7 linked regions of the Homo sapiens genome follow. The protein of the gene in region 6 purifies or fractionates together with the protein of the main gene of each other region. This does not show direct contact. Each region holds a gene or a part of one and is shown on either strand. Other genes may lie near its edges. The genes, in order: LRRC47, MRPS31, ANXA5, GPATCH11, HDLBP, DNAJC8 and RAP1A.

Evidence for each region.
Region 1: the proteins of DNAJC8 (region 6) and LRRC47 purify together in Homo sapiens (affinity purification with mass spectrometry, with the first as the bait; one large-scale study listed by BioGRID). This does not show direct contact.
Region 2: the proteins of DNAJC8 (region 6) and MRPS31 purify together in Homo sapiens (affinity purification with mass spectrometry, with the first as the bait; one large-scale study listed by BioGRID). This does not show direct contact.
Region 3: the proteins of DNAJC8 (region 6) and ANXA5 purify together in Homo sapiens (affinity purification with mass spectrometry, with the first as the bait; one large-scale study listed by BioGRID). This does not show direct contact.
Region 4: the proteins of DNAJC8 (region 6) and GPATCH11 purify together in Homo sapiens (affinity purification with mass spectrometry; 2 studies listed by BioGRID and IntAct, with this or other methods). This does not show direct contact.
Region 5: the proteins of DNAJC8 (region 6) and HDLBP purify together in Homo sapiens (affinity purification with mass spectrometry, with the first as the bait; one large-scale study listed by BioGRID). This does not show direct contact.
Region 7: the proteins of DNAJC8 (region 6) and RAP1A purify together in Homo sapiens (affinity purification with mass spectrometry; 2 studies listed by BioGRID and IntAct, with this or other methods). This does not show direct contact.

What each region holds. Positions count from the first base shown.
Region 1 is NC_000001.11:3,789,999-3,793,498, forward strand, and holds part of LRRC47 (leucine-rich repeat-containing protein 47), read right to left. Parts: intron 1-3,500.
Region 2 is NC_000013.11:40,750,691-40,754,190, reverse strand, and holds part of MRPS31 (small ribosomal subunit protein mS31), read left to right. Parts: intron 1-98; coding exon 99-172; intron 173-1,721; exon of another isoform or gene 1,722-1,918; intron 1,919-3,500.
Region 3 is NC_000004.12:121,679,981-121,683,480, forward strand, and holds part of ANXA5 (annexin A5), read right to left. Parts: intron 3,498-3,500; coding exon 3,384-3,497; intron 1,782-3,383; coding exon 1,691-1,781; intron 829-1,690; coding exon of another isoform or gene 776-828; exon of another isoform or gene 1-775. UniProt on the Homo sapiens protein: This protein is an anticoagulant protein that acts as an indirect inhibitor of the thromboplastin-specific complex, which is involved in the blood coagulation cascade.
Region 4 is NC_000002.12:37,094,518-37,097,130, reverse strand, and holds part of GPATCH11 (G patch domain-containing protein 11), read right to left. Parts: intron 2,480-2,613; exon of another isoform or gene 2,371-2,479; intron 1,695-2,370; coding exon 1,613-1,694; intron 924-1,612; coding exon 868-923; 3' UTR 1-867.
Region 5 is NC_000002.12:241,309,173-241,312,672, forward strand, and holds part of HDLBP (vigilin), read right to left. Parts: intron 1-3,500. UniProt on the Homo sapiens protein: Appears to play a role in cell sterol metabolism. It may function to protect cells from over-accumulation of cholesterol.
Region 6 is NC_000001.11:28,223,030-28,226,529, forward strand, and holds part of DNAJC8 (dnaJ homolog subfamily C member 8), read right to left. Parts: intron 1-3,500. UniProt on the Homo sapiens protein: Suppresses polyglutamine (polyQ) aggregation of ATXN3 in neuronal cells.
Region 7 is NC_000001.11:111,699,789-111,703,288, forward strand, and holds part of RAP1A (ras-related protein Rap-1A precursor), read left to right. Parts: intron 1-3,500. UniProt on the Homo sapiens protein: Counteracts the mitogenic function of Ras, at least partly because it can interact with Ras GAPs and RAF in a competitive manner. Together with ITGB1BP1, regulates KRIT1 localization to microtubules and membranes.

The sequences.
Region 1 (3,500 bases), about 24 Mb from region 6:
TGGCTAGGGGTCCTCCTGACACCTGATGGGATGAAATGCCGTCACCTGTCACCCGGAGCTGACACTCTACTGCAGGAAACACAACCCTCGCAGTGGCTAAGCTGACGGCAGCAACGTGGGTCCTGACTCTGGCCTGGCATACCGGCTGCCTTCCGGGCCCATGGCTTTTGCAGGGGACCTGCTGCCGGGGAAGGATCCTAACTTCATGGTGGTGACAGGCTGACATAAACCAACCCAATAAGGAGCGCCAGCCCCTGAGTGAGCCCCACTCCCTCCGGCAGCAACTGAGAAACTCGGAAGCTGGGGGAGAGCCTTTGGCTTCAGGAGGGTTCACATTGAGGCTGAACTCCCCTGTGCAGCTTGGCCTTGGGAGGGGAGTGGCCCAGGGCCTGAAAGGATGTCTTTACTAAGGCACCGTCCTGCCCACATCAGCTGTTCAGGTAACATCTGTCCCATCCATCCCTCATTCCCACACGGACACCACACGCCTGCGTGATGGCCACTTACAATGCAGTCAGGAGAGGTGTGACGTGCCCCCATCCTCGGCTCACCACAGCACTGCCAGCTGAGCCCCACGGGCCACAGCAGCGGGAAGCAGCCAGGGAGGGCCGGCCGGGTGCTCTCAGGTCTCAGCAAGCCACGTGGCTCTGAGGCCAGGACACTGGGGAAGCCAGGCTCCCACGCAGGCAGAGCTACTGCTGAGGCCATAGGACAGCAGAGGCCTCGTCCCCAGTGGCTGGGAGGAAAGAGGGTCAGGGCCTTTGCACTGCAGGTCCCAGCCCAGGCTTGGGGGTGCTCCCTGGGGAATGGCTGTGGGGATGGGCACTAGGAGCCAGGCCGAGCTGCTTCCATTTGCAGTCTCGCCCCTCTGGGGAGGGAAAGGACAGGCAGAAGCTCTGTGCTGTTATTTTGGCGGCCCCTAAAGAGCCAGTCCTCCCAAAGAACCGGAACTGGGCTCGCACTTAGTTAACCCACGGAACGCAGGAAAGTGGCAGGAAGCATGTTCCAGGTTGATGCCTGAAGAAGGGCTGGCAGCTGCTGCTTTTGTACTGAGGAGCCCTGAGCCCTGTGAAAGAAGGGGAGGGAGAGGCCCCGAGACGACACACGGAGAAGCCCACCCACCCCGGCAGCCCAGCCCTGAGCCCACGCCAGCTGAGCACAGCCACGCGAGCGACCAGCAGCAAGAGCTGCAGCACTGTCCACTGTTCACTGTCCACTGTCTGGCGGAGCCAGCCCAGAGCGCAGAGCCGCTGCTGCTTTAAGCCTCGTGGTTTCGGAGTCAAGCAGCCACAATGACCAGCACTACCTCCCCCATCTCTTTCCCTCTTCGTGTACTGCGTTACCCTCCCAGTCTTCCTACAGAGGAGCAAAGAGCCTTCAAGACCCAACGGCACGCAGCCACAGAGAGACAGGGCTGGAGCCCGTGCCTTCTGTTTTTTTTCCTTTCCTCCCCCTTCTTTCTCTCCTTTTTTCTTGAGACGAAGTTTCACTCTTATTGCCCAGACTGGAGTGCAACAGCACCATCTTGGCTCACCGAAACCTCCGCCTCCCAGGTTCAAGCAATTCTCCTGCCTCAGCTTCCCGAGTAGCTGGGATTACAGGCATGCGCCACCACGCCCGGCTAATTTTGTATTTTTAGTAGAGACGGGGTTTCTCCATGTTGGTCAGGCTGGTCTTCAACTCCCAACCTCAGGTGATCCGCCCGCCTCAGCCTCCCAAAGTGCTGGGATAATAGGCATGAGCCACCGCACCCGGCCTCTCTCTCCTTTCTTTAAGACAGGGTCTAGCTCTGTTGCCCAGGCTGGAGTGCAGTGGTGTGATCATGGCTCACTGCAGCCTCAACCTCCCAGGTTTAAGCGTTCACCCCACCTCAGCCTCCTGAGTAGCTGGGACTACAGGTGCACACCACCACACCCAGCTAATTTTTGTATTTTTTATAGAGACAGGTTTTCACCATGTTGCCCAGGCTGGTCTCAAACTCCTGGGCTCAAGTGATCCGCCCGCCTCAGCCTCCTGAAGGGCTGGGATGCCAGGCATGAACCACTGTGCCCAGCCTGCCTTCTGTTTCTGAGCTCAGTTTTCTGGTTTTCTACACTCCCCATCTCCCCACAGCACCAGGAAGGACATCAAATGCATTTGCCTTTGTGTGCGAAATTCCAATGTGCGTAGCTACATTGCTGGGCATAGTTCTGGTAGCCATTCCTCAGAAAGGTACCCAAAAGGACATCTGAGTGCAACAAGGGATTCCAATAGCTCTTGCATGACCCTCCAAGAAACAGGTCTCCTGATAGAGAGCCACTGGACGCCTAAAATTTACGAACAGAATGGCCCAGGGGAAAGGGAACTTGGCCACCTCTTTTGGGATTTAGAAAACAAGACACACTCTTTGACTTGAATGACATTGTTTTGGGCACCATAAAGAGGAATGCTTTACCAGGCAGGTGCTACAGAGAGCTGGACGCACACTTTTTTTTTTTTTTGAGACGCAGTCTCACTTTCTCACCCAGGCTGGAGTGCAGTGGTGCAATCTCGGTTCACTGCAACCTCTGCCTCCCGGGTTCAAGCGATTCTCCTGCCTCGGCCTCCCGAGTAGCTGGGACTACAGGCATGCACCACCACACCCAGCTAATTTTTGTATTTTTAGTAGAAACGGGGTTTCACCATGTTGGCCAGGATGGTCTCGATCTCTTGACCTCGTGATTCGCCCGCCTTGGCCTCCTAAAGTGCTGGGATAACAAGCGTGGGCCTGGCCCACAACACTTTTAAGAACTTGAATACTGAAAGACATCTATGAATTTGAAGAGAAATATTGCAACTGACTGGACACTTACATGATGTAAGGCACAATGTTAAGATACATGCCTAGTACATCAACACTCTGGAAAACCAAAAGTATCTGTCAGGTGGGAAGGTGGGAGTAGACCATGCTGTATCCAACATCACACCTTAGTCCTAGAGGGATGCCTACAGCCCTGAGGACCAAGGAAAATGCCAGTGAACTCGCCTCTTCCAGGAAATGCCAATGAAACCACCTTTGCAAAAACTGTAACAGTGAGAAAATTATGGTGGTGAAAGAGATCTGATCTAACCAATCCCCATCTTTGGCCTTCCAACTACCTTTTTTTTTTTTTAAATGGAGTTTTGCTCTTGTTGCCCAGGCTGGAGTGCAATGGTATCATCTTGGCTCATTGCAACCTCCGCCTCCCGGGTTTAAGCGATTCTCCTGCCTTGGCTTCCTGAGTAGCTAGGATTACAGGCATGTGCCACCATGCCCAGCTAGAGATGGGTTTCTCCATGTTGGTCAGGCTGGTTTAGAACTCCCGACCTCAGGTGATCCGCCTGCCTCAGCCTCCCAAACTGCTGGGATTACAGGCAGGAGCCACCGCGCCTGGCCCTTCAAACTACCTTTAATTATTCCTGGGCTTGGGCCAAGCTAACTTTGGGAGACATTTGTAATTTAAATGATAATACTCCTTCCGTAAAACTCAACTGCCTTTGTA
Region 2 (3,500 bases), on a different chromosome or scaffold from region 6:
TTCTACATAGAATATTTCACTTAAGATATTTTCTCATAGTTTTTGTTGACAGTTTAAAATATATTCATTAAAATGTTATTTTCTTTTTTTGGACTTAGGAAAAATATATTCACAGGGAAAAGACTTAATATTTTTGACATGATGGCAGTTACTAAAGAAGCACCTGAAACAGGTTTGTTAAGAATAACACTCTTTCTCAGGTGGAGAAACATTCCATCGTTCCAGGATGTCCTTAGTGTTCTAATAGTTTGGATATTTTAATATTCCATTCTGTCATTGGCCTGGATCCTGCTTATGAATGTGGCGGTTGTTACAAGGAAAACTTGGGACTGTAATGTCCGCCTAAACTGGGAAGGCGTCAAGAGACCAAAGAATAATTTGGGCAAGTCCAGCTTGATGAATAGATGAGTTTACTAGAACTTACATTACATACTGGACATTCCTGAGCAGCTCTAGAGTCACCCTGCCTCCCATCTCTAAGCAGCCTTTCAGCTAATGTTTTGTTTGCCTACTCTGTGTGCGCGATGACTGTTACCTGATATGTTCCCAGGTATGCCCTGGGATGTTTGGGTTCTCAGGGACACCTGCTCCTCAGCTAGGCACCATGGCCTTGGCTCCCTGCTCAGCCTTCAGGATCCAAGCAACACACATACACTCTTAAGTAACCTGGTGGGGGTTACTACAGTTGTCAACATTGCTAGTTTCGGTCAGGCTTCCCCCTTGAAATGTTGCATTCTGTGAGACAGCGGGAGGTAAGTACTACCGATTACCGAATCCAGAGGTCCAGATTAGCTACTAATTTGAGTTAGAACAATAATAATCAACTACCATTTACAGTGTATCTCTATGCTATTACATAAAGATATACTGGTTCCTGCCCTTAGGCAGCTTAGAAGAGGAGACAGCATTTACAAAATAACTTACTGAAGTGACTTAGTGATTGTTTAGGAGATGGGAAGAACATTCAAGGAATATATTTAACAGACTTGTAGTGTTTTCTTTGGGTAAGAAATTTGCCATTTTAAGTCTAAAAGAGAAATAAGAGTGTCCTCTTGCTTGACATTAAATTTAGTTTACTAGTAAAATAAATGAAGAAACTTAATACAAATGGTCTCTAGTGTATAAGTGATGAGCATTTCTAAAGAAAATAAGTTAGTTTTTTGGATATTGGTAGAAACAATGTTGTATGTGGACTTGGGAGGCTGAGACAACATGATGGCTTGCGACTAGGAGTTCAAGACCAGCCTGGGCAACATAGCCCCTTTCTCTAAAAAATAGAAAAAAATTATCCAGGCATGGTGGTGCATGCCTGTAATCCTAGTGACTTGGGAAGTTGAAGTGGCAGGATCACTGGAGCCCAGAATTTGAGGCTGCTGTGAGCTATGATTGTGCTATAACACTCCATCCTAAGAATCAAAGTGAGACTCCATCTCGAAGGGGAAAAAAAAAAAGAATGTTGTATATGATAGATAAGTTCCTAGGCGGGCCTCCAAAGGCTCATTTAATCTTTCTACAGTTACTTATACGAACTTTTGATTTTCCCTCTATTTAATAGACTATTAGGGGCTATATCTCATTCATGTAGCACCTACTCATGTGGCTTACAGATCATAGGAACTAGGTGTCTTAAATCTTAAATTCTTTTTTGAACAAACTGTACTGTAAAATATATATCTGTAGAGGAAAGAAGTTAATTCAGTGTTTGTTCATTTGAATTGAAGGTGAAGCTAAAAGAACAACCCCCTTCTTATATTACAAAAACTGCATTCTCTTGTGTATGATGAGAAGGAAGTGCAAAATGCGTAGGGACAAGGAATCGCCTCTTCCCTGCTCAAATGGTTAAGCGTGCATCAGAAAGGAATTTCTTGGCCGGGCACGGTGGCTCATGCCTGTAATCCCAGCACTTTCGGAGGCTGAGGTGGGTGGATCACTTGAGGTCAGGAGTTTGAGACCAGCCTGGCCAACATGGTGAAACCCTGTCTCTACCAAAAATACAAAAATTAGCTGGGCATGGTGGCGGGTGCCTGTAATCCCAGCTACTCGGAAGGTTGAGGCAGGAGAATCACTTGCACCCAGGAGGCGGAGGTTGCAGTGAGCCAAGATTGTACCATTACACTCCAGCCTAAGTGACGAGCAAAACTGTCTCAAAAAAAAAAAGAAAGAAAGAAATTGGTTGTCAGGGCAGCTGCTGTTGTCCAGCCAAAAGAGGCACTTGAAGATTCTTGAGAGTCTTGAAGGAACCATCTTACTTTTTAAAATAAAAAAATCTTATTTCTAAAACTGAAGTTAGTTGGCAAGGAAGCATTGAAGTTTTATATATTTTATAAAACAGTATCAAATTATTATACTCTAGTTAGGAAAATAGCACACAACTTTAATAATTTAATGAAGGTACTGTTTAAATATGCTATACTTGCATGAGTCTAAAGAATGGTTTTTGTTCCCAATTAAATACAAGAATAGCAAAATGTGGAAACGTAAATTTAGCAATTGTTCACTGTTGTTTTCCCACCACCTGAAATAATGCTGGAAATACAGTTGGCATTCAGTAATTTTTTTATTGACTGATTGAATGAGTTATTCTGTTCCATGATTCCCATGTCTTGTTCCCCACTAAGTTCTTACCACTGCTACAAAGGATATACTCATAGGCCCTACTGGTTATCCTAGAGTCGACAGGCAGTATAGCTTAACAGAAAGAGTGTTGGTGTTGTGTAGAACTGGATTCAAATTCAGATTCTGCCACACTAACTTTTCCCCACCTATAAAATGAGGGCTACTACATACATCTCAAAGATTAAGTGAGGTAATATGAGAAAAGTGTCAGGCACAGTGCCTGGAACATAGTACATATTTAACAAATGCTTACAAATATTAGCAAGTGTAAAAATATAGTGATGATCCTAATGATGATGGAAAAGACATAGGTGGGTCAGTGACCACCAAGTAAAAGATAACTGAGACAATTAAGTTATTTTTGATGTGATTGCTCTGTAAATGTGGCTAGTTAAGGCTAACAACTGATTGTTTCCCAGTATCAGATGATCTAGGCCAAATATCTAGCAGTCAGTGTGTGGCTAGATACATTTCTGCACATAAAGGCTCATAGAAATAGATTCAGAAAAAGCAAAATAGATAAAATAAGGCTTACCCAGGTAGAAGAGTAATTGAGCTATTTGTTGATATGCTTTAGTGGGGGCTTGGCAAAAGTGGGTAAAGAGGTAAGCTGGAGGATAGGTCATATGCAATCTATGCCTCTAACCCGGAAACTGTTCCTAGGAATTTGTTCTAAGGAAATATTACAGATACGCGCTAAAGTGTAACTACAAGGATATTTGTCACTATAGTATTTAAAAGAGAAAATATATAAATGATCAAAATATTGAATAGTAAGGGATTGTGATACATATATATGTAATATATATATATATATATATATATATATATAAAATGGGATACTAATGCAAGCATTCAGTGAAAAAAGTAGATTACCAAACTAT
Region 3 (3,500 bases), on a different chromosome or scaffold from region 6:
AGAACTTATTCATCCTGCCTAACTAAAATCGTGTATGCTTTGACCAATATTTCACCAGTCCCTTCTCCCATTCACCCCACCCCTACACCCTAGCAAACACTGTTTTACTATCTGTTTCTATGAGTTCAATTTTTTTAGATTCAACATAAGAAGTGAGATCATGCATAGCTTATGCCTTGTGCCTAGCTTATTTCACTTTGCATTATGTCCTCCACGTTTATCCATGATGTTGAAATGACAGGATTTCCCCTCTTTAAGACTGAACAGTACTCCTGTGTGTGTGTGTCTGTGTTTGTGTGTGTGTGTGTACGTATTCTTTATCTATTCATCTGTCAATGGACACTTTGTAAACCCACCTAGTCTTGAAACTCTGCTGCATGTGTGATTTGTACCATGAAGCCTCCCTAACATCCAAAGCTATGATGACCTCTCTCTTCTGAATGCATTATTGCATTTAACATCATTGGTATTTTACTTTAGTTTGAATTTCATTATCCTTTAAATATTGCAGTCATTCTGTCATGTCACCCACTGAGGAGACTGCACACAAACTGCTTGAGGACAGGAGCTGTGTTATGCACACCTTTTGTCACTCATGACAGCCTGTTAACACACTGCCAGACACATAGCCAGTGCTCAATTACACGGCTGAGTAGGACAGACCACACAGTTATTACCCCCTTTGAGCACACCATTTGTAATCCAGTAGCACAAAGGCTCTCATCAACGTCAACATCCCCAGAAAGAGATCTTTGAATAGTACATCAAATAAAGTTCAAAGTTGAGATACATGTATCACTTCTGCCTTAGCGGTTGGGAACTTACTGCCTATAAAAAGAGAAGCAGGAAAGAGAGATTCAGCCCTTTAGAAAGGTAATTATACAGTTGCTCTAAACAATTTTTTGCTGTTTTGACTTGCTGGGTTAACAAAGCCATTTCTAAGATTAACAAACTAATGGCAAGATACAGCCCCTAGCAAAAGACACTAGGCTTGGAGTCTGTTGACTGAGCTGAGAAACTGGATAGTCTGACCCTCCTCAGTCAGGCAGGAGAAAGAGTTGGCTACAAGAAATCTGGTAAGAAAAGGACTCTCTACCTCTACTTTTTACTTCATTTTCTTGATTCTATTCATGAGACATATTTTAGGCCGAAATGCAGATTTCTGTTCATATAAAAGACACACTAAAAAGAAAAATCAAAATGCAGAATATTTTATTCAAGCACTGCCATTAGCTAAGACAACATACATTTACTCAAATGTACTTTATCAACTCTGATGTGGGAAAGGGTTTAGGTTTCTCTTCCAAAGTTCCAAAAGTACTTTTTATATAACTCCTAAATTTTGCTAGCATAAAGCTAAATATTTTTAAAGGAGGAAAAACCATTTTTACCTTAATGTTAACATAAAGACAACCTGTATATCCCTACACTAATTGCAAATCCTATGCAAAAGTAAACTCCATCTTCAGCAGTAGCTTCTTATAAAATATGAAAATAGTAGAGGATAACAAGGCAGTCTTTTCCTTACTGAAGGAGAAAAATAGCTTGAATTGCAGGTCATTCATTCATTCATTCATTCATCCATCATTTACTGCGTGCCTCCCATACCTACAAAGGACTGCATTCAAATCACAGAAATGAAGGAAGTGATAGTGGAGGTGAAGTCAAAATATAACTCACAAACATTTACCTTCTTCATAAACTTGTTTGATGGCTCTCAGTTCTTCAGGTGTCCTTGAAGCAATAATTTCTGTCAGTACTTTTTCATTTGTTCCAGCTCCCTGTTTGGAGATTTTAATAGAGAAAACATGTCAATAAGATTAAAAAGAAAGTTATTAAAAGAAAGTTATAGATGTTACCCAAATTGCATAGTTATATAAATATTATCCAGTATAACATGGATTTCTTTGTATATGAGTTCTATTAGTTATAGAAATAACAAGTTTTAAATGATTTTCTCTCCAAAGACCATTTTATTCTTTTTGCCTAATGGAAAACAATGTTTATCATGTGTATGTGTGTATATATGTGTACGTATACATAACCAGTTACATAAATTTGTAACTTTTAATTTGATCAGTTAATTCTAGCTTAAAAGTAAAACATTTTCATGAAACATGAAGTAATTTTTTAAAAACCGAAAGAGTAAAAATGAAAACTTCACGTAAATGTACATGGAAGAGCACTGATACTTAATAAGCACCTCAAAAGATAAACCCCTGACCCCCAAGTTAAGTGCTGTGCAGTCACAGGAAAATTCTACATCAAAGGTAACAATAAATATAGCAATACTTAATTATTAGGAATTAGAACAGTATAAAGGAATTGGGACTTGCTTTCTGGATTTTTGAAAAATCATTTTAGTTGGCTTTCCTTTTTCTGCTTTTAAAAATCACATCTATATGATTAAACTAAGAGATGCAACGATATAGCTGGACTTAATTTTTTTTAAAAGATAGTATATTGAAGCCTTATTTTCTTTATATTTCTATTTTTTGCCAAAAATCAAGCACTGAAAAACCTAGAGTTCATTCTCTGGCAGAATTTCAACTACTGCTGACATTTCAGAAGTACTTAGCAAAAAAAGTGCTTTTCTCAATAACCTCAGATTTTTGTTTATTCCAAAAGAATCACCATAGGAAAATGAAGAGACTGAGCACAAACCAGCTCCTATCAGGATGACCCTTCTCCTCTCTCCACTCCATCAGTAAGAATCCCTGAGAAACATTATTTCCTTGTTAAATCTCAATGTGCCCATTCAAAATCTAACAGCTAACAACTGAACTACTTCCTGTCCCATGAGCCTAAACAAATGTGTCAATGCCTTCATATTTATACAACATTCCAAACACCAGTCAAGGGAATACATATTTAATTTTTGCTGCAACTGAAATTATAGCAAGTTTACCAGCTACTTCATTTTAGTGTTTAGAGGGGCAGGAAAGAAGGAAAGAGTATGAGAAAATATTTATCTTGAAAATTCTCTCTGAAGCTTTACCTTTTAACCTAAAATGATGAGCAATATTATGGTTCCCTAATCAGGCAATTTTCTACTGAAAAAGATAAAATAGCTCATCTGTAATATTTTTTAAACATCCTCAAAATCAGAAGACAGGCATGAAAATAAAATACAAAAAGCTATAAAAATATGAAAATTTTAAACAGCCCAGTATTATTGAGTTTAAATCTACAAAAAGATGAAATGACACACGTGTAATTTTCTCCCTCCTTTACTGCTTATTGCCTCCCAGTTTTGTCTGCCAAGCAACTCTCACTGAAATAATCAGATAAAATTTTTTAAATATAACAAATAAGAGGAAGTAATTACCAAAACAAAATAATACTATCTATGCAAGAATGTTCCTTTCACTCATCCTTTTTACCTTCAAGGCATGTTTCAGTTCATAAGCATCATAAAGCCGAGAGGGTTTCATCAGAGCCACAATTAATTTTTCAAATTTTCCAGTTAGTTCTGATTTCAGGTCATCCAGAAGATCCTA
Region 4 (2,613 bases), on a different chromosome or scaffold from region 6:
TATTTAAATTTCCTCACAATTAAGTTTCTCTAGCCAAAACTTCCAACAGATCACATATAATGGATATAGACATTGTCATGAAAACTCATGATTTTACCAGAAATTATCACAGTTAAATGGATTAGAATTTAGTAGTACTGGTCGAACATTGCCTCTGACATCAGCCTTATTGAGGGGAATACTTTTCCCCTCCTCTTCATGCTTGGATGGAGGGAAGGGAACTTCTCCTTGCTCCTTCAAAGCAAGAAGTGTAGGAAAAAGCTCTCTGAACCCTCATTCATTCCTTCCCAAGAGAGAACTGTCTTATCCCATGGGTGATACAAGAAGGAACTGAGCATGTGTGGTCCAGCCCCTGGTGGTTTCCCTGACCTTGAAAGCTAACTGGTCTCAGAATGCAAAGATGGGCTCTGCCCCAACAAGGCAGAGACCCGCTGTTCTCTCCAATCAGGGAGAAATATTACAGTCTCTGACTGGAGAAAAAGTCAACCTTCTTCTCTGTATCAGTTTATTCACTGATAAAGTGGATATTTTTCTCTTCCTCTGACTCCCATTTCTTATTTCTCAATTTGTTCCAAAGTGAAGAGGGGAATAAGAAGTTACCTGTTGGTGTCCTTAAACCCCTCACGTATCACAATATAGCAATAAATTGTAACTGTCCATCTCTGTGATACTTGTGTTCTGAAATGCCATTGCATTATTTTTTTCAAGTCAATGAACATTCATATTCTAAAGTACAAAAAGAACAAAACATTATATAAAGTCCCCCTTTCTTTACTGGCATAAAAAATTTGAGATTTCCAACTGCTAAATTGTCTATCCCTAGGAAGTAATAACATTTTTCAAGTTTCCACTTTATTGGGAATAATCTTAGTCATGATCTGCAGAAGTTGGTCCTGGACAATTTGAAGATAGGTCTTCTTTATCTGTAAGTTATGTGAGGGAAATGAAAGATTAATACAACTTCTACAGTAAACTAGAAAATTATTTCAACATAACATGCATTTTTTGATCTGATGTTTTCTACTTATTCTGCTAAACCAGAAAAGATAAAAACAACAATAACCAAAAATGCTTCACTCTCAAGTACAAAGTTCTTAAATACAAGTTAGCAAAGGTAGCTTGGGCAAAGGTGTTAGAAGGAGAAACACTTGGCTCTGTAAGACACCTGGTAAGTGTAAACCATTTCTATCCTTACAATGGAAAAAAAAAGGAATGGATTTCAACATATCTGATTTTTACGGTTTAGGGGCAATATTCTATCTAAGTATATAAAAATTAGCTCTAAAATTTAATATAAATTCTTTCAAATATCTGTAGCCAAAGAAAGAATCTTTAAAAATAAAGCACAAAACATTCATCATTCTCAGGTTATTCTAAAATTGTTTCTTTTGAAACAAAACACTGAAAAATTCACTTCCACACATTCAGTTTCTGAAAAGTTAAATGCAATTTTAATAAAGCCTCAATTATTTCTATATCCACTATTTAAGAAATTGGTCCCATACTGCCATTTGAATGGAATAAGAAATTTCCATTGTCAGTGGGAAATGACTTTAACTAAAAATTGGAGAGCATTCATCTATTTTTAAAAAGCATAAAGTAATTTTCTTACCTTCATAGGCTGTTCCACACCAAATACAATATAGATGTTCTTCTCTTAAATAACTAGTCAATATTTGTAATTTTTCCAGTACCTATAGGATACAAGCACATTATTAATACTTTACATTGAACAGAACCTTGGTTTTCTGGCTCTTAGATCGTGCCGAATTAGCTCAAGGCTGTAAATATTCTGCTATACTCTGGAATAGTTATTAGAAATGTCAAGGACAGAACTGATATATTCGAATGTGTTACAGTTCATTAGCCACCCTGAGATTTCCACAAGTCTGCCAGACACAATGGAGACTGCTTGTTAACATTGAGAAAATAGTTTTTGGGTGGCCTTATTAAAATTGGCATCCTTTAAAGGCTTTTTCTACTTTCAAGGCATTTACCTCCCCCAGATAAGGTGAAGGTGAATATGGCCTCCTTTTGCCATAAAAGTTCTCATCAATGGTCTCCCAATTAAGTGGAATATAGGTTTTTCAAATTGTGAATGTTTTCCACAAAATTATTATACTCAAGTAAGCATACGAGTGTGTTTTCCTTTCTTGAATAATCTCCATTTCCTTTTTTTTTTTTTTTTGTGAGACAGGGTCTCGGTCTATCACCTAGGCTGGAGTGCAGTGGCGTGATCTTGGCTCACCGCAACCTCTGCCTCCCGGGCTCACGTGATCCTCCTACCTCAGCCTCCTGAGTAGCTAGGATTATTGGGTGCCCCACACCTGGCTAATTTTTGTATTTTTAGTAGAGACTAAAATACACTACCATGTTGGCCAGGCTGGTCTTAAACTCCTGACCTCAAGTGATCCACCAGTTTTGGTCTCCCAAAGTGTTTGGATTACAGGTGTGAGCCACCATGCCCGGCCTCCATTTTCTTTTGATTGTGTTTTTTTGTTGTTTATAAGTAGGAGAAAAAAGTACACATTAGAATGACTTGTAGAAGTTTTGCAGGAAATAAGGTATAAATTAAAATAATTTACATTTGTTGCTAATTCATCATCCAAACTG
Region 5 (3,500 bases), on a different chromosome or scaffold from region 6:
TCCCCTCGATACTTTATTTTCCTCCTTTCTTCTTGTCCACATTGGACATACTGCATATCTGCTGGTCTGCTGACTGCCTGACACCGCTTACCAAAACGTGACCTCCGTGAAAGTGCAGGAGAACACACTTGCATTTTCCTTACTGTGTCCCACTTCCTGGAACAGTGTCTCCAGCACGAGCCGTTGTCAGATCAATACATTTACACTACTTCGTGAAGCACCACTAAAATGATAGTAAACGATTTTTTCTTTTTTTAAGATACAAATCACGAAAGCAAAGAATAAGAATAGAGATAAGAACATTAAAATACTGGAGGCTAGAAACTGGAAACAGACCTAAAAGGGCTGAATCCTGTATCGGCAATGGGGAAGGCCAACTGGCAATATGACTGGAAGCCAGGAGACCTGAATTAAAAACAGAGTTGGCTGATAGGTTTAAAAGGCACGAAGATCCCTAAGATGCACCCCACAACTCTGCACAGCCACACAGAGCCAACCTGCACAGTCCCTCTCCTATCCTGGCAAAAAGGTATCGCTTTTCTGTCTGCAAAGGGAAGTAGAATCTTTGGACTGGGGACACCAGTTACAGAGGAGGGAAACAATTCTGAAAAGAGGGAAGTAAGCTCTTTTATGGTTACTGCTGTGCTCCCAGGCCTCTCTCCTCACTTGGCCACTCAGCCAGGCAAAGGGCTACAAGATATTTCTCTGGGGAATCTGAAGAAACCCAAAGAAGCTGACAAGGGTGCTGTAAGGAAATGGCCCAGCCAGGTGCCTCTGCAGTGAAAGCCACAGTCAGCCACAGACACAGGCTCAGAGGCCCTCTGACTCACGAGCAGGCACAAGAACATCACTGCATAGCCCAGAAAAGGCTGACAAAAGCCAAAAACCCACAACAAACCAGAGCAGCCTCAATAGTGACTTAAGGAAAAAGAAAACAGGGAAAAATAAAACCTCATCAATATCTTCCAACAGTTAACAGGAGATACCACATTCATGAAACAAAAAATAGGTTATAAAATAGGAATAGAGGGAACAAGAAAAAGCTCTTAGAAATGAGAAAAACCTTGGTAGAAGGGCTGGAAGACAAACTTGAGAATAACTTCCAGAAAGAAAATGAAAAACCAAAGGGTACAAAACATCAATTAGACAGGAGGAATGTGGTTTTCTTTTATGAGATATATTGTACAGCACGGTGAATATAGTAAATAATAATGTCGATTTCAAAAGTGCTGACAGTAATCTCATATGCTTTCACCACAAAAAACTTAAAGTATTTGAAGTGATGAATTATGTTAACTTGATTTTATTATTTATTGTATCCATAAATCGTAACATCACTTTGTACCCCCTAAATATGTACAAGTATAATTTGTCAATTTACAATTTAAAAGATAAAAACAAAAACAAAAATTTTAGAGGGGGGAAAAAGAAACCTTAAGAAAATTATGAGTGCCAATCCAGAAAGTCCAAGAGTAGAATTCTAGAGAGAGAGAGAGAAAGCAAATAGGAAGAAATCAAAGCAATAAATCAAAAAAATGCCCAGCGTTGAAGAACATGAGTTGCAAATAAACAGGACCAAAGAGTAGGCAAGACGATGGATGAAAACAGTCTCCAAGGGACATCACTGTTCTGGGAGTTCTGAATTTCACAGAAAGAAAAGCCTCTGAGGCCAGATGCAAAGCCTTCACTCCCAGCACTTCGGGAGTCTGAGGCAGGAGAATCACTTGAGGCCAGGAGTTCAAGATCAGCCTGGGCAACATAGAGAGCTCATGTCTACAAAAAGTTTTTAAAATTATCCAGGTGTGGCGGTGCATGCCTGTAGTCCCAGGTACTTGGGAGGCCGAGGCAGGAGCATCACTCAAGCCCAGGAGATTGCAGCTGCAGTGAGCTATGACAGCGCCACCGCACTACAGCCTGAGCAACAGAGCAAGACGCTGTGTCTCAAAAAAAAACAAAAGAAAGAAAGAAGAAAAAAAAGAAACAAAAACCTTCAGGTTTCATGGAGGAAAACATAGTCACACACAAAGGCTCTAAAAATGTTACGTATCAATAAAAGAGAATCAGAACGGCTTAAGACTTCAACAACACTGGAAACTTAGAGACCGCGGAGCAAAATGATGTCCAAATTCCTACTCAGGATAAGAGCAGAACGAGGCACTTTCGTACATACAAATTCTGAAAACTTCATCTGCCATGCACTTCTCAGGCAACTAGTGAAGGATGTGCTCCATCGAAGTGAGACAGTCAAATCAAGAGAATGACATAGGTTCCAGAAAAGTGAGGCTCCAACACAAGAGGGAGTGAGGAGAGTTACAGGAAGATTTCAGGCACAGACAAGCCTGCAGCAGATTGGAGGCGCTGGGAGAGATTTATTCAAGATAAAATGATAGGAATACTAATTTTCTTCAAAAGAAAACGGACAATTTCTTGAAAGATTTAGATAATTGCTTCAGAATTTGGGGTTGAATTGTAGTGACAAAATATAGAAAACTGAGCAAGCAGCAAGCAAACAAAAACAAATAAGACTTGTAATAACCCAGGAAAACAAAAAGTTATCCAGAAAAGTGAAAACAATCCTATTATACCACTTCGTCCAGCTGTAAATGGCAATATGTAGTCATAATATAAACAATCAATACTGAACTAACCAAATTAAGGATATATCACTTTGGGCAGCCATGGATCCGTTTGCACTGAGAAGGCAGAGGGTGAAAGAAAGCTAGGAACTTCCTACCTATTCTCAGTGTCAAGCGAAGAGACATCACATGAAACAGGGGTAGGAGACACAAATACAGACGTCAAGCAAATATGCTCTTTAGAGTTGGAGGCAAAGATCAAGGAAATCTACTAAGGCTGAAGTAGATACTCTGCAGGGGAGGAAACATGATTAGGGGAAGGATGTTGGCACTTCTTTCTTACAAGCCTTTCTAGGATTATCTGACTCTACAAATGACATGAAGCTGTAACCTTGATTTGAAATAAGATTAATATGAATGCTAATAAAAAGTAGTAAGGGAGAGTATGTAGTCAATGTATTCTTACCAAATTAACAACAAGTATCAACAAGATGACTAACACAACCACATGATGTCCAGACACGTCTCAGAACAAATGTCTAGCTCATCTTCAACGGTATTCGAGGAACTTCAGTGTGCTTGGTAAAACAATAGCCTACTAGGGATTTCACTTCTAAAATGTCTCTGACTTTAGAAATACCAAAAAATAACATGTAACCAAGTTTTAAAATATTATACACATGAAAAAAGGTTCTTTTCATTATTTTCTTGGTTTCCAGATGTTGAACGTTGTGGTGCTTTTACAATTGAAGAGAAAAAGCATTCTGACACATTATACTGGTTGGGGTTCTCTGCTTTTCTACTTGGTCAAAAACCTTTACACGCATTTTGGACTTTGTGTCATCATAACTTGGCAATTGGGAAAGCCGCATGATATGCTTCTTTCAGAACTTGGTTACTTCTTACCAAAAGAGGGAAAAGCTT
Region 6 (3,500 bases):
CCTGGCACAGGGTACAAGAACCCAAGCAAGGACATTCCCACAAAGGGCAGCCAAGCATGGGGTATGGAAGCCTGGTATGGTGAGAAGGGTGTCCAAGTAGTAGGGCATCCAGTGTGAAAAGGCAGCCCAACACAAGGTTCAGAGCCCAAAAAATATGAAAAGAGACATGGTATGTGGAGCCAGACCCCGAGTAAGAGGAGAAAGGTGTTCATGGAAGAAGGTGGCTTGACGGAGGATGTCAAAGCCAGAGCAGGGTAGGGAAGATGCCTACTCAGCGGGGAGGATCAGTGTGGGATGCTGGAGCCCATGATCAGTGAAAAGGGCCCCCAGCAGGAAGAGAGCAGGCTCAGAAAGCCAGAGAGCCACATGGAAGGGTGGCCTGACATGGGAGTTCAGAGCCCAGGTGTGGTGAGAAAGGTTTTTGCATAGACATATCCTGGTGCTGGTATCAGAGTACAGCGGGGTGAGGAGAGCATTCAGAGGGAAGGAGTGGCAGTGGGAAGTTAGTTGCATACAGAGAGATCAATTAAGTAAATGTAGATATTAAATTCTGTAGGAGCCAGCGCCAGGTGCACTGGCTGTAATGCTATAATCAATCCCAGTACTTTGGGAGGCCAAGGGAGGATCATTTGAGGCCAAGAGTTTGTGATCAACCTGGGCAACATAGTGAGACCTTGTCTTTACAAAAAAAAAAAAAAGAAAAAAAGAATAATAATAAAGAAAAGATAGTGGGAACCAGGTTTCTAACTATTAGAATAAATCCTGTGGGGTTGGACTGAAAATGGATGTTGGGTGTAAACATATATGTACACACACAAACACACAGACTCCAGGGTCTGTAAGCTGTGATATCCCAACAGCAATGAATCTACCTAGCATTCAAATCTTGATTTCTATATATCATTCTCTGCCAAAAGGAACCAGCGCTCCTTGGTGAAATGGTTAATTCCAGGCTGGGTCAGGAAAAACACAAAAGTGCCTACTAATCAAAGAATGATGAAGACATATGAAAGACACAGGAGCTAGATTGAAAGGTAACCCACTGGCCAAACTTGAGACAATCTGAGCATCAAAATAAACATAAAATTACAACGTACTGAATAAAATAGAAAAACCTAAGTCCATACTGGCAAATAAATGAACTAAAATTTTGATATGGACAGGATATTTACCAAGTTTCAAAGCACCTCCACATAAAATACTTATTCATTACAAAGGGGAAAAATAGTAACCTCATGACACTTCTTTTTATTTTTGAGATGGAGTCTCACTCTGTCGCCCAGGCTGGAGTGCAATGGTGCAATCTCGGCTCACTGCAACCTCTGCCTCCCAGGTTCAAGCAATTCTCCTGCCTCAGCCTCCCAAGTAGCTGGGATTACAGGGGCACTCCATCACACCCGGTTAATTTTTTTATTTTTAGTAGAGACAGGGTTTCACCATGTTAGCCAAGCTGGTCTTGAACTCCTGACCTCAAGTGATCTGCCCGCCTCAGCCTCCCAAAGTGTTGGAATTACAGGTGTGAGCCACCGCGCCTGGCCAGGGAGACCCCATCTTACAAAACAAAACAAACACGCCAGGTGTGGTGGCTCACGCCTGAAATCCCAGCACTTTTTGGGAGGCTGAGGAGGGCGGATCATGAGGTCAGGAGTTCGAGACAAGCCTGGCCAGCTTGGTGAAACCCCATCTCTACTAAAAATACAAAAAATTAGCAGGGCATGGTGGCACGCTCCTGTAATCCCAGCAACCAGGGAGGCTGAGTCAGGAGAATCACTTGAACCCGTGAGGCGGAGGTTGCAGTGAACCGATATTGCGCCACTGCACTCCAGTCTGGGCAGTGGAGTGAGACTCTGTCACGAAACAAACAAACAAACCAAAGAGCCAAACACAGTGGCTCACACCTTGAATCCCAGTATTTTGAAAATCTGAGGTAGGAGGATCAATTGAGCCCAGAGCCCAGGAGTTCGAGGTTGCAGTGAGCTATACAGTGAGCGGAGTGATAGAGAGGCCCTGAAAAACACCTTTTTGGGACAATTAGTAAAACCTGAATGGGGTCTGATGATTATATAGTAACAATGTATCCAGAGAGGCCCTGAGAAAGACTTTTTTGGGACAATTAGTAAAATTTGAATGGGGTCTGATGATTTACATAGTAACAATGTATCAGGGTTCATTTCCTGATTTTGATAGTTTATATTGTGGTTCAGTAAGAGGATATTTGTAGAAAAATCACATTAAAGTATATCAGGGTGATGGACCATCATACTAACAATTTACTCTTAAAGAGTTCAAGGAAAAGTCTTCATATTGTATTTGAAATATTTGTTAATCTGAGATTATTTATAAATGAAAAAATTCTTGAAAAATTACTCTTCAAAAAACAGAAAACAGATGAACCTTGAAAATATCATGCTAAGTGAAATAAGCCAGACACAAAGTAACAAATACGGTACCATTCCACTTACACGGGTTTCCTAGAAGAGGCAAATTCATAGACAAAGTAGAGTAGAGGTTACCAGGGGTCAGGGAGAAAATGAGGAGTTACTGTTTAGTGGATACAGAGTTTCTGGTTGGGGTGACGAAAAATTTCTGAATATGAACAGTGGTGATGGTTACACAACACTGTGAATGTACTTAATGCCACTGAATTGTAAAACTAAAAAAAAATTTAAATGGTAATTTTTTTTTTTTTTTTTGAGACAGTCTCGTTCTGTCGCCCAGGCTGGAGTACAGTAGCACAATCTCGGCTCACTGCAACCTCCGCCTCCTGGGTTTAAGTGATTCTTGGGCCTTAGCCTCCCAAGTAGCTGAGATTACAGGCATGCACCACCATGCCCAGCAATGTTTGTATTATTTTTGTGGAGATGGGGTTTCGCCATGTTGGCCAGGCTGGTCTCAAACTCCTGGCCTAAAGTGATCCTCCCACCTTGGCCTCCCAAAGTGCTGAGATTACAGGCGTGAGCCACCACACCTGGCCAAAATGGCAAATTTTATGTTATATATATTTTTCCACAATAAAAAAAAGTGAGGGGAGTTTTTTTCTAAGTGCCCAATAAGTGTTGTTTCTATTATTTAACAGATACAAAAATATTCACTTCAAAATTATTTGTAAATGTGAACAATTAGAAAGTAGTTTAGGGAGTCTCTCTGAACCTATTCTGGTTCAGAGGGCCGCCTGTTAAAAAAACTTTTTAAAGATCTGGGTGTGGTGGCTCACGTCTGTAATCACGGCACTTTGAGAGGCCGAGGCAGGCAGATCACAAGGTCAGGAGTTTGAGAAAAGCCTGGCCAATATGGTGAAACCCATCTCTACAAAAAATACAAAAATTAGCCAGGCGTGGTGGCACATGCCTGTAGTCCCAGCTACTCGGGAGGCTGAGGCAGAAGAATCGCTTGAACCCGGGAGGCAGAGGTTGCGGTGAGCCGAGATTGCGCCACTGCACTCCAGCCTGGGCGACAGAGACTCCATCTCAAAAAAAAAAATTTTAGAAAGAAATAAACTA
Region 7 (3,500 bases), about 83 Mb from region 6:
CTTCAACTTCGTTACAACCTGTAGTCCATTTATCCTAACATCTTTTTATTATCCCTTATATCTTCAACCCCCTCTGCATATAGCTTCAGGTCCACGGTCCATCATTTATAATTCTCTTGAATATATCCTCAACTCCCTTGACTTTTCAGCAGCCTTTGACTCAGTTTATCATTGCTTTCTAATGTAAAACCTTTATTCATTTGGCTTCCAAGAAACAATACTTGCCTGATTTCCTCTGTCTCATTGGTTACTCCTAAGTCTCCTTTCCTAATTCCTCTTTATCTCCCCTACCTCTTAATGTTGGAGGACCTCAGGGTTCAATACTTGCACTTCTCTTTCCTAACAACACTGCTTTGGAGATCTTGTAGTTGCTTGGTTTTAAATACAATCTGTATGCTGATAAATACTAACTTTGTAACCCTGTCTGTATTAGGCCGTTTGCATTATTGTAAAGAAATACCTGAGGCTGGATAATTTATGAAGAAAAGAGGTTTAATTGGCTCATGGTTCTGCAGGCTATACAAGCATAGCTCCAGCATCTGCTTCTGGTGAACACCTCAGGAAGCTTACAATCATAGTGAAAGGCAAAGAGGAGTAGGTGTTTTACATGGCAAGAGCAAAGAGTGAGCGGGAGATGCCACACACTTTTAAACAACCAGATCTCACGAGAACTCATAATTGTGAGGATAGCACCAAGCTATTCATGAGGGATCCACCTCCATGACCCAAATACCTCCCACAGGCCTCACCTCCAACACTGGGGATTACATTTCAGCATAAGGTTTGGAGGTGACAAACATCCAAACAATATCCCTATCTCTCATTTCTTTTCTGAACTTCGAGCTCTTATATCTAACTGCCTCTTCAATATCTCTTTTTGTATGTCTTATAAGCATCTCAAATATAACATGTCCAAACTGAACTCCTGATAACCTTTCCCTGACCTGGGTCTTTCCAGTCTTTCCCATCTCAGTAAATAGTACCTTTTTAGTTGGTTATGCCTGAAACCATGGAGTCGTCCTTGACTGTATTTTTTGTTATATTATGTGTACATCCAAACTCTCAGAAAACCCTACTGGCTTTACCTTAAAAACTTACCCAGAACTCAGCTACCACCACTAGAATCTAATGACACTATCTTGGTCTAAACAGTTGTCATCTCTCAGCTGGATTATTTCAATAACCTCAAAACTGATCTCCCTGCTTCTCTTCTTCACCCCCTTCAGATTGTTCTCCACACAGTAACCATCATAATTCCATTTAAATGTAAGTCAGATCATGTTTTCCTCAGCTTAAATTATGCATTAAACTCAGAGTAAAAGCCCAGGTCTTTATTACATTTCCCTGAAAGGTCCAAATGAGAATCCTCTCTCTTTGTCCCTTCTCTGGCCCCCACTGCTATACTCACCCACTAGGTAACAATGTTTCAATGAATCCAGCCTCCTTACAGCTTCTCATACACTTTAGACATGTTTCCCTTTGGGGCCTTTGCATTTGCTCTTTCCTGTGCTTGGGGTAGTCTTCCTCCACATAACCATAGAGCTTATTCCCTCACCTCCCTCACATGGTTGCTCAAATGTTACCCGTGAGGCCTTCCCTGAGCATAGTCTTTTAAAATATAACTTTATATTCCTACCCTCAAAATAAACTCCCAACCTTTACTTTTCTCTATAACATTTATTACCATCTTGCATACTTGATTTTTGTCTGTCTCCATGTATACTCCTCCAGGGCAGAAATTTTTGCCTCTCATGATCACTAACATATCCATAGGGCTACAACTATGTCAGTGGATATTTGTTGTGAATGGATGAAACTTGTAGAATGTCCTTAAGAAGGAGGTTGGCATTCTCAATAGGAGGGAACACCAACCACAGCAGTTCTGTAAGGACTTTTCTTAAACTGGATTTTCAGAACTCAGGTTGCCTGTATGTTTATTCTTTTGATTTAATAAGAAGCAGAGACCATGATCTCTAGAGAACATCATAGAAATAGTGTTGCTAGTATTTGTAGCACTTAACATTTGTAAGTAAACTCATTTATTATATAAACATTTGGACAGTGGCAGAATTTAATTGGTTACCATAGTGGTGCAATTCTGGAATATGCAAACTTTATCAATGAAAAATCCAGGAAACTTCCAGTTTTTACATCTTTCCCAGAAAATACACTGGCAGCAGTATAGGAAGCTCAGCCATGTTCCTGTGGCACACCTTAGACGAATTTGAAGCTGGGGAAATGGCTGAGTGGTAGCATAGCTAACTCCCTGGAATACAAGAAAGAGTACATCAGCCAGGGTAGAACAACCAGAACTATTTTAGATGTAGTAGACAAAATAGAGGTAGTGGTCATGGGGAACAAGGAAGCCAAGGCACAACAAGCTTAAGAAACTTTGTGGATTTATCTTTTACGTTTAATGCATCCAGAGGTAAAAAGATCCAAACTGTATAGTTATTTAATATAAAGACCCAAGACATACACATTTTTAATATTCTGCCATATGTGCTTTTTAAGTAATATATATATATAATACCAAAACTTTTCTAAAAGAAGATTTTGTCTTATATTAACCTCCATAGTTACAACATAAAGTAATGATTGTCACCAAATAAAAGGAAGTTTAAAATTAAGTAATTTTAATTTGGCATGACTAAAGCTCAGTAACTAAATGTTAACCATTAGTAAATTTAACTAAAGGGGATAGATAGTCATTGCACTATTCTCACATCTTTTCTAAAGGTTTGGAATGAGGGGGAAAATGAAAATACATGAACAAGCTCTTTTTTTTTTTTTTCCGAGACAGAGTTTCACTCTTGTTGCCCAGGCTTGAGTGCAGTGGTGCGATGTTGGCTCACTGCAACCTCCACCTCCCGGGTTCAAGTGATTCTTCTTCCACCAAGTAGCTGGGACTACAGGTGTGCACCACTACGCCCGGCTAATGTTGTATTTTTAGTAGAGGCAGGGTTTCACTGTGTTGGCCAGGCTAGTCTTGAACTCCTGACCTGGGGTGATACACCTGCCTTGGCCTTCCAAAGTGTTGGTATTACAGGTGTGAGTCATTGCCCCTGACCATTAACAAGCTCTTATAAAGAGTTTATTGACTGTCAAGATGATAAAAATATTGCTATGCCATGGGAATAGAAAAAGAAAGATGATAAAATCTGCCAGTAGAGATATTGATTCTGGATGATGAAGTCATAGTTTAGTATTGGGCTTATACCTCAGATTGTTAGCACTTGGGCAGTAGTTGTGTCATAAATTTGCAAATAAAATTATTTAGGATCAAAAGATCTGTTTCTAAAAAATTATATACAGCTCTAAATCACACAAAAGCAAATTAAAGTGGTTAAGAATTCCTTTTTAATTCTAGTTTACTGTCATTGTTTCTAGTCACCTCAGTTGCTAGAAACTTGTGTTATGTCTTGTTTTCTGTCAGGATAGCAAGTAATAAAAAATGTTACTCACTTGTAATTATGCTGTTTTAAATTGTTGCAGTATAC